Linked DNA regions of Homo sapiens. The protein of the gene in region 2 interacts with the protein of the main gene of each other region in a pairwise test. Each region holds a gene or a part of one and is shown on either strand. Other genes may lie near its edges. The genes, in order: SLC30A5 and SLC30A6.

Region 1 (3,918 bases), on a different chromosome or scaffold from region 2:
GCATACCACGTCCAACTAATTTTTTTTTTTTTTTTGGTATTTTTAGTAGAGATGGGGTCTCACCATGTTGGCCAGGCTGGTCTCGAACCCCTGACCTCAGATGATCCACCTGCCTTGGCCTCCCAAAGTGTTGGGATTACAGGTGTGAGCCACTGCGACCGGCCTGATATGAAACTTTTATTTAATCTACTGTCCATAGTCCAGTTTTGTCAATTGACCCAGTAACATCCTTTAAAGCACTTTTCCCCTACTACCAAATCAGACCAGAATTGCCTATTGCATTTAGTTGTCATGTCTCAAGAATTAACATCTGATATGCTGTTATTTACAAAATGAGATGCTCAAAATAGATTAGAAAATTAAATTTATGCTACAAAAATGCAGTTGGTTTAAGTTCTGTCCTATGTGGTGTTCTTCCCTTTTCATAACAAATGCTTATGTTGGGCGGGCGCGGTGGCTCATGCCTGTAATCCCGGCACTTTGGAAGACCGAGGCAGGCCGATCACGAGGTCGGGAGCTCAAGACCAGCCACACCAACATGGAGAAACCTCGTCTCTACTAAAAATACAAAACATTAGCCAGGCGTGGTGGAGTATGTCTATAATCCCAGCTCCTCGGGAGGCTGAGGCAGGAGAATCTTTTGAACCCGGGAAGCGGAGGTTGTCGTGAGCCGAGATCGCGCCATTGCACTCCAGCCTGGGAACAAGAGCGAAACTCCGTCTCAAAAAAAAAAAAAAAAAAAAAAGTTACGTTATAATGCTATTACTACAGTTCTAAAGAATTTATCACATTTATCACTTTCTTTAAATATCAAAGAAGTATTTATTCCAGAATGGGAAGAACTCGTTAAAAATGGAGGCAAAGAACACCAGTTCCAGCCAAATTGCAGGGCTGTATTTTGTGCATTTTCGACACTATCTCAGAACTTAGGAAGGATACACTAGAAAGTGGTCGCTGCACCTGTTGGTCCCTTACTTTTCGGGTTGGTGGGAGAATTGAAGAGAGGAAGTGGGAATTTTCACTTTTTACTCTATGAATTGCTTTGCTGTTTAGATTTTTTTTTGACAACGAGGACACATTTCTTATTTAAGAACAAAATAAAAAAAGAAAACGGGGCTGGACCCTCGATGTGCTCAGTTAATCTGAACATCCAAGTTCCCCTGAACATCCAAGTTCACGTATGTACTTTGGTTTCGTCGCCTGAAGAGAGCTGATGGTGACACCTTCCCCTAATTTATGCAGGGAAACGTCAGAAAGGTTAAGTAGTCGCCAGACTATTTCAGGGAGAAACAGCCAAGAGAAAGGCTTCTCACAGATCAGAAAAACCTCTCACGTGAACTGGCGGGCAGTTCTAAGACTGACTGTCTGCCTTGTAACCCAGAAATTCAAGCAGAAGCTTTTTGGCTTTAGCGCCTTCCTTCTGCAGCAGGCACCCGAAGAGCCCGGGGAGCCCGGAGGCAGCCTGCGCGCAGGGAGGCAGGCAGGGGGAGAGGGCGCGCCGACCCCGGGACGTCCCGGGCTGTCAGCGGAGACCGGAGGGAGGCCGGAGAAAGTGCATCCTGAGCGACCCGGCCGGTCGCTGCCTTCCGGATCGGTCCCTTACCGAGCGCTGGGTACGTCCACCGGCCCAAGGCCGCCGCCGCCGCCGGGGCCGGCCAGCACGTCCCCGCCGTATTTCTCCTCCATCCCGGGGCTCACGAGCCGCCGCCGCTGCCCCTGTCGCGGGGTCTCCTCATGTCTCGCCGCTGCCGCGGAACAGCGGGTGCAGGCGCGTCACTCCCCCATGGCAGAGACCCCGTCGGGCTCCTGCAGGCCGGGCCGCCACTGCCGCCGTCGCCGGCTCCGGCTCACTAGCACACACGCGTCGGGACTAGGCCGCGATCAGTTCCGGCGGCGCCAGGTTCCCGGGAAGCAGCGGCGGTAGGGACGTTGCCAAGCCACGTCATCAGGCCCAGCAACCCTCACTCCCGGGGGAGTGCCCAGCCTTGCGTCTGCGCAAGCAGAACACTCGCCTTTCCTCGTCCCTTAGGCTCCTCCCGCCACGTTGTGTCGCATTGAAGCTCCGCCTCCTATCAGCCTCTCCGGGTGGCGCTCCCTGTGCACTTACCTGTCCCTACAGTGCCACCTATGGGCCGTCAGAAGTACAGCGGATTCCTGTAGGGCAGAGGGGGAGGGCGTGGAAAATGTACAGCGTGTGTGATTAAACAAAGCTCACCAATCTTTTCCTCTGCGTTAGGGATTCTTTTTTTTTTTGTTTTGAGATGGAGTTTCGCTCCTGTTGCCCAGGCTGGAGTGCAATGGCGCGATCTCGGCTCACGGCAACTTCCACCTCCCAGGTTCAAGCGATTCTCCTGCCTCAGTCTCCCAAGTAGCTGGGATTACAGGCATGTGCCACCACACCTGGCTAATTTTGTATTTTTAGTAGAGACGGGGTTTCTCCATGTTGGTCAGGCTGGTCTCGAACTCCTGACCTCAGGTGATCCACCCACCTCGGCCTCCCAAAGTGCTGCGATTACAGGAGTGAGCCACCGCACTCGGCCTAGAGATTCTTAATCTAGGTTAACATACCCTCTGCCTCTAAGTTTTTGTGAGTATGGATCATTTTTGTGATGAGAAGGCCCGAAGTCTTAAAAGTTCACGTGCCCTTCCCCCAACCAGAGATAACTATTTTTGAAGCTGTAGAGAATCAATTACAAATAGTGGTACGGCCATTTCTTTTGAACAATGCCTTTGATGGACTTTGGAGAGGAGAAACTAGTATTGACCAAAATTTGCCTCCTCAGCAAACTATCCCAGGGCAATTTTCTAGGAGTGACCACGTGCGAAACTTCATGGCCTTCTCTCCTACTCCTAAGGGAACCTAAAGGCAATTTCCAGATTTCTAAAGAAACATTCTTATCCTGGGCAACATGGCAAAACCCTGTCTCTATCAAAAATACAAAAACAATTAGCCAGGCGTGGCATATGCCTGTGGTCCCAGCCACTCAGGAGGGAGAGGCGGAAGGATCGCTTGAACGTGGGAGGTCAAGGTTGCAATAAGGCATGATCATGCTACTGTGCTCCAGCCTGGGCAACAGAGCAAGACCGTCTCTGGAAAAAAAAAAAAAAAGAAAGAAAAAGAAAGGATTCTTCTTTGCCACAGGGAGCCTGGGGTCATCTATCAAATAAAGTAACGGAGGAAGGTGACTGCTTTTGTGGCTTTTTGTGTGGGGCCTGGAGTACTGGTAACCGTTGTTGCTAGAGGCCCTGGAATCCAACTGTGTGAGGACAGAACATAGGAGAAGGAAGAGGATTTTGTTAAGTGTTGCTGCAAACTGTTTTGTCTCCTTTTTGAAAAGGAAAGCGTTGATTTTCTTTAAATTCTGCCTGTGAAACTGTGTAATCCAGGCACATCTGTAAAAACAGGTCAGGTAGTGTTACCTGAAAAGGGGGTCCCCATCCAGACCCCAGGAGAGCTTGGATCTCACGCAAGAAAGAATTCGAGGCAAGTCCATACAGTAAAGTGAAAGCAAGTTTATTAAAAAAGTAAAGGAATAAAAGAATGGCTACTCCATAGGCAGAGGGCACAGTGGCTCATGCCTGTAATCCCAGCAGTTGGGAGGCTGAGGCGGGTGGATCACCTGAGGTCAGGAGTTTGAGACCAGCCTGACCAACATGGCGAAACCCTGTCTCTACTAAAAATACAAAATTAGTCGGGTGGGGTGGTGCATGCCTGTACTCCCAGCTACTCGGGAGGCTGAGGAGGAGAATGGCTTGAACCCGGAGATGGAGGTTGCAGTGAGCCAAGATCGCGCCATTGCACTCCAGCCTGGGCAACAAGAGTGAAACTCCGTCTCAAAAAAAAAAAAATAATAATAGTAATAAGAATGCCCAACCTCCTGGGAATGCAGCCGAGTAAGTCTCCCCCTTGTTTTACCC
Region 2 (3,918 bases):
CAGATACAGAATCTGAACTTAGTTACTAGCCCCATCACCCATGTCCCATCTACTGTTGCTCCATCTTACAAAGGATAAGTAAGGACTTTTAGCATTAACAGTATCTTGCTACAGGTAAACGCTGTTATAAATCTGTATAAATATCAATGGTATTTGTTTTACGATATACTGGACAAGTCAGACTTTGTGGAATTAAACTGATCAGAATAGATAAGGTCCATATAGTTGGCAGCTCTGTGGTTGAGAAATACAATTGTTTTTTCATATATATGATACATACAATTCTCTTTTCATATATATATGAAAATCACATAGTTGCAATATATATGAAACATATATACGTTTCTTTTTTTTGGAGACAGGGTCTCACTCTGTTGTCCAGGTTGGTCTTGAACTCCTGAACTCAAGCGATCCTCCTGCCTTAGCCTCCCAAAGTGCTGGGATTACACTGAATCCCTGAGCCTCGTCCAATTCTCTTTTCTACAGGTGCTATGCAAAGATTTTGAAGGTCAAATTTGAAATTACAGAAGACTAGGGGAAGCTGGGTTAGTGTTTCCTAGGCCTGGAAATAATGAGAAGCCTGAAGCCAAGATAGAAAGGCCTTCCTGTGTAGTATAAAAATATTTAGAACTTGGGAACTGTTAAGAGTAAAGAAACGGAGTCTTAGTATTAGGGAATTTTGTTTGTGAAATACCAGCAAAAACGTTATGTTGCCACAGTCTGAAATCTGACATTGGCCAACTGTTTAATAATACATCAATTAATAATTAAGAATCAATAGTAAATTATATATTGAAAATAAAATCTCACGTGTGTATCTCGGGCTGTTCCAAAAAGCGTTCTGCACTATAAGAAATAAAAATATATTAAATAAGTCCTATAAATTATAAAGTTAAAAAGCTTTATTAAATATATCATTCACCCACCTTAAAGTTCACAAAATCTTTTAATATTATAACTATTAACTATTAGCAGTGATGAGGCAAGGAGACTCATAAATTATCCTTTTTAGTTGTTTTCTTTTTTCACAAATTATCCTTAATATGTAATGTCTATCTTTCTCTGCCAAGCCTATTTCAATGGGTTTGTAATAAGCATCAAACATGCCTGACTGAATCTCTGTTTCATTCACAACCACTTCTGATTCAATTTAGTAGCATTAAGGAAGGAAGTAAAAAAAATGAAACAGAAGAAAAAGTCTGAAACATAAAGAAAGTGTACTATCAAAACTCCAGCCCTGCTCATCTAAGTTTTCATACCCTTGAAAGCAAATGTGTCTGACGGGTTTCTTTCATGTTCCCAAAGGTGTCATGGGGGGATTTAGAATAATATCCTATACAAATGTACCTTTCTTTTAATATAAAGAGAGCTCCCAACTGTGCCAAGACTGTGGAGGCAAATACAGCCAGGACTTCTAATCTTTCAAACCTGAAACCAAAACATTAATTAGATCATCACAATTCTTTCAATTCACAAACCAGTCTCTCTAGAACACATTTACATTCATTTATTTGCTCACTTAATATACATATGTGCTGTCTACTATGAGCCCAACACTGTTAGAGCAGATTAGGGTTTCTAGAATAATAATAAACAATGAAAATCACAGATTCCAAGGAGTACCTATTTGTACAATTCCTAGGACTCAGAAGAGAGAGCACCTTCAGCCCATGTCAGAGGCTTTCTCTTTCCAGAAAAACTTTAAAATGATTAAAAAAAAAAAAAAGACAATTACCAGGACCCAATTATAGTCCTTATTTTCTAGAAATAATCACAATCATAATAATAACACTTAATTGACCCACTGTGCGTTAGACACCAGAGTGCTTAACATATTACCTCATCTAAACCTCCCAACCCCTTATTAGAATTACTTTATCCACTTTTTTCTTTTTTTCAAGAGATGGGGGTCTCACTATGTTGCCCAGGCTGGACCCTGAACTCCCAGGCTCAAGTAATCCTCCCAGCTGCTCAGCCTCCCGAGTAGATGGGACTACAGGCATGTGCCACCACACTTGGCTCATTTTTTTTTCCCAAACAGATAAGAAGTTTAGGACACGAAGAAGAAAAGTAACTGTTTAGAGTCATATAGATAGCAAGTAGAAGGTTTTCAAACTCAAACACTCTGACACTAGAATTCAGATTTTAACCACTTATTATACTGCCTCTCATTTCTATACATAATTACAGTGAATTATGAATATATTTTATAATCCCTAGACTATAAGCCAGAGGCCAGGAACTGTTGTTTTAGTTTTTCCTGCAACACATGGTCTAATGGTATTCAATATTTATGGTAAGTATAAATGCTTAAAATTTTTCAAGAAAATAATCACGGAGGCACAGAAAAGACAAAAAAATTAAGACTGTACATCACATTGTTATTTGTAAAGGAAAAATGCTGGAATCAACAATAGAACATTATATATTGTTAAACAAAAAAAGTATTTATTGACATGGAAAAAGGTGAGTGAAAAAAGTAGGTTATGATAGAATACAAATTAAGTGTTGTTTTCCAGCTACTGAAAAAATAAAAAAGAACAGGAAAAAACAGTATGCAAATGCACCAATGTTATTTGTGGAAGGTGAGAAGCTGATATTAAAATGCATATGGAACTGCAAAATGTGAAGGAAGGCAAAGATAACCTTGAAGAAGAACGAAGCTGGAAGATTTATACTACCAGATATCAATAGGTATTTCAAAGCTGCAATAATTGACATAGTGCAGTACTAATCCAAGTACAAATACACCAAATTGTACAGAAAAGAGAATCTAGAAACAGACCTACACATATATAGTCCACTGATTTGTGAAAAATGTGGCACATAAAAGCAGTAAAGAGCCAGGCGCGGTGACTCACACATGCAATCCCAGCACTTTGTGAGGCCGAGGCAGGCACATCACTTGAGGCCAGTTCAAGACCAGCCTGGCTAACATGGCGAAACCCAGTCTCTACTAAAAATACAAAAAATTAGCTGGGCGTGGTGGTGCGGGCCTGTAATCCCAGCTGCCTGGGAGGCTGAGGCACGAGAATTGCTTGAACCTGGGAGATGGAGGTTGAAGTGAGCCGAATTGCGCCACTGCAGTCCAGAATATGCCTTTACTCCTGCTTCACACCATACCAAAAAAATCTATTCCAACTGGATTGTAGGATTAAATATGAAAAATCAAACAGTAAGGCTTCTAGGTGATAACAGAACAAAGTGTCTTTCTGACCTGGGGGTATGCCAAGATTTCTTAACAAGTACACAAAAGGACCAACCCAAAAAAATAAATTTAATTTAAAACTTTTTTTTTTTTTTTTGAGACGGAGTCTCACTCTGTCGCCCAGGCTGGAGAGCAATGACACGATATTGGCTCACTGCAACCTCTGCTTCCTGGGCTCAAGTGATTCTCCTGCCTCAGCCTCCCAAGTAGCTGGGATTACAGGCACCCACCACCATGTGTGGCTAATTTTAGTATTTTTAGTAGAGATGGGGTTTCACCATGTTGGTCAGGCTGGTTTCCAACTCCTGACCTCAAATGATCTGCCCACCTCACCCTCCCAAAGTGCTAGGATTACATGCGTGAGCCACCGCGCCCGGCCTAAAATTTAAAACTTTTATTCATCAGAAGATACCATTAAGAGAAAGAAGGGCAACTAAGAAGGAGAAGATACTTATATATAAAGAACTGTTACAGATTAATACAGAAAAACAGGAAATGGTTAAAAGATTTTTACAAGCATTTTAAAAAAGAGGTGATCTGAATGGTTAATCAACATAGGCAAAGGTGCTCAATTAGTCATAAGGAAAATAACTTAAAACCACAATGAAATACCACTGCATACCATAGAATGGCCTTTATGAAAAAAGACAATAACAGCTGGGCACGGTGGCTCCACACCTGTAATTTCAGCTACTCGGGGTGTGGGAGGA

The links.
Region 1: the proteins of SLC30A6 (region 2) and SLC30A5 interact in binary tests that used the Homo sapiens proteins (3 or more experiments, as listed by UniProt).

The regions. Positions count from the first base shown.
Region 1 is NC_000005.10:69,092,024-69,095,941, reverse strand, and holds the start of SLC30A5 (proton-coupled zinc antiporter SLC30A5), read right to left. Parts: upstream 1,929-3,918; 5' UTR 1,687-1,928; coding exon 1,604-1,686; intron 1-1,603. UniProt on the Homo sapiens protein: Together with SLC30A6 forms a functional proton-coupled zinc ion antiporter mediating zinc entry into the lumen of organelles along the secretory pathway.
Region 2 is NC_000002.12:32,189,846-32,193,763, reverse strand, and holds part of SLC30A6 (zinc transporter 6), read right to left. Parts: intron 1,429-3,918; coding exon 1,348-1,428; intron 847-1,347; coding exon 811-846; intron 1-810. UniProt on the Homo sapiens protein: Has probably no intrinsic transporter activity but together with SLC30A5 forms a functional zinc ion:proton antiporter heterodimer, mediating zinc entry into the lumen of organelles along the secretory pathway.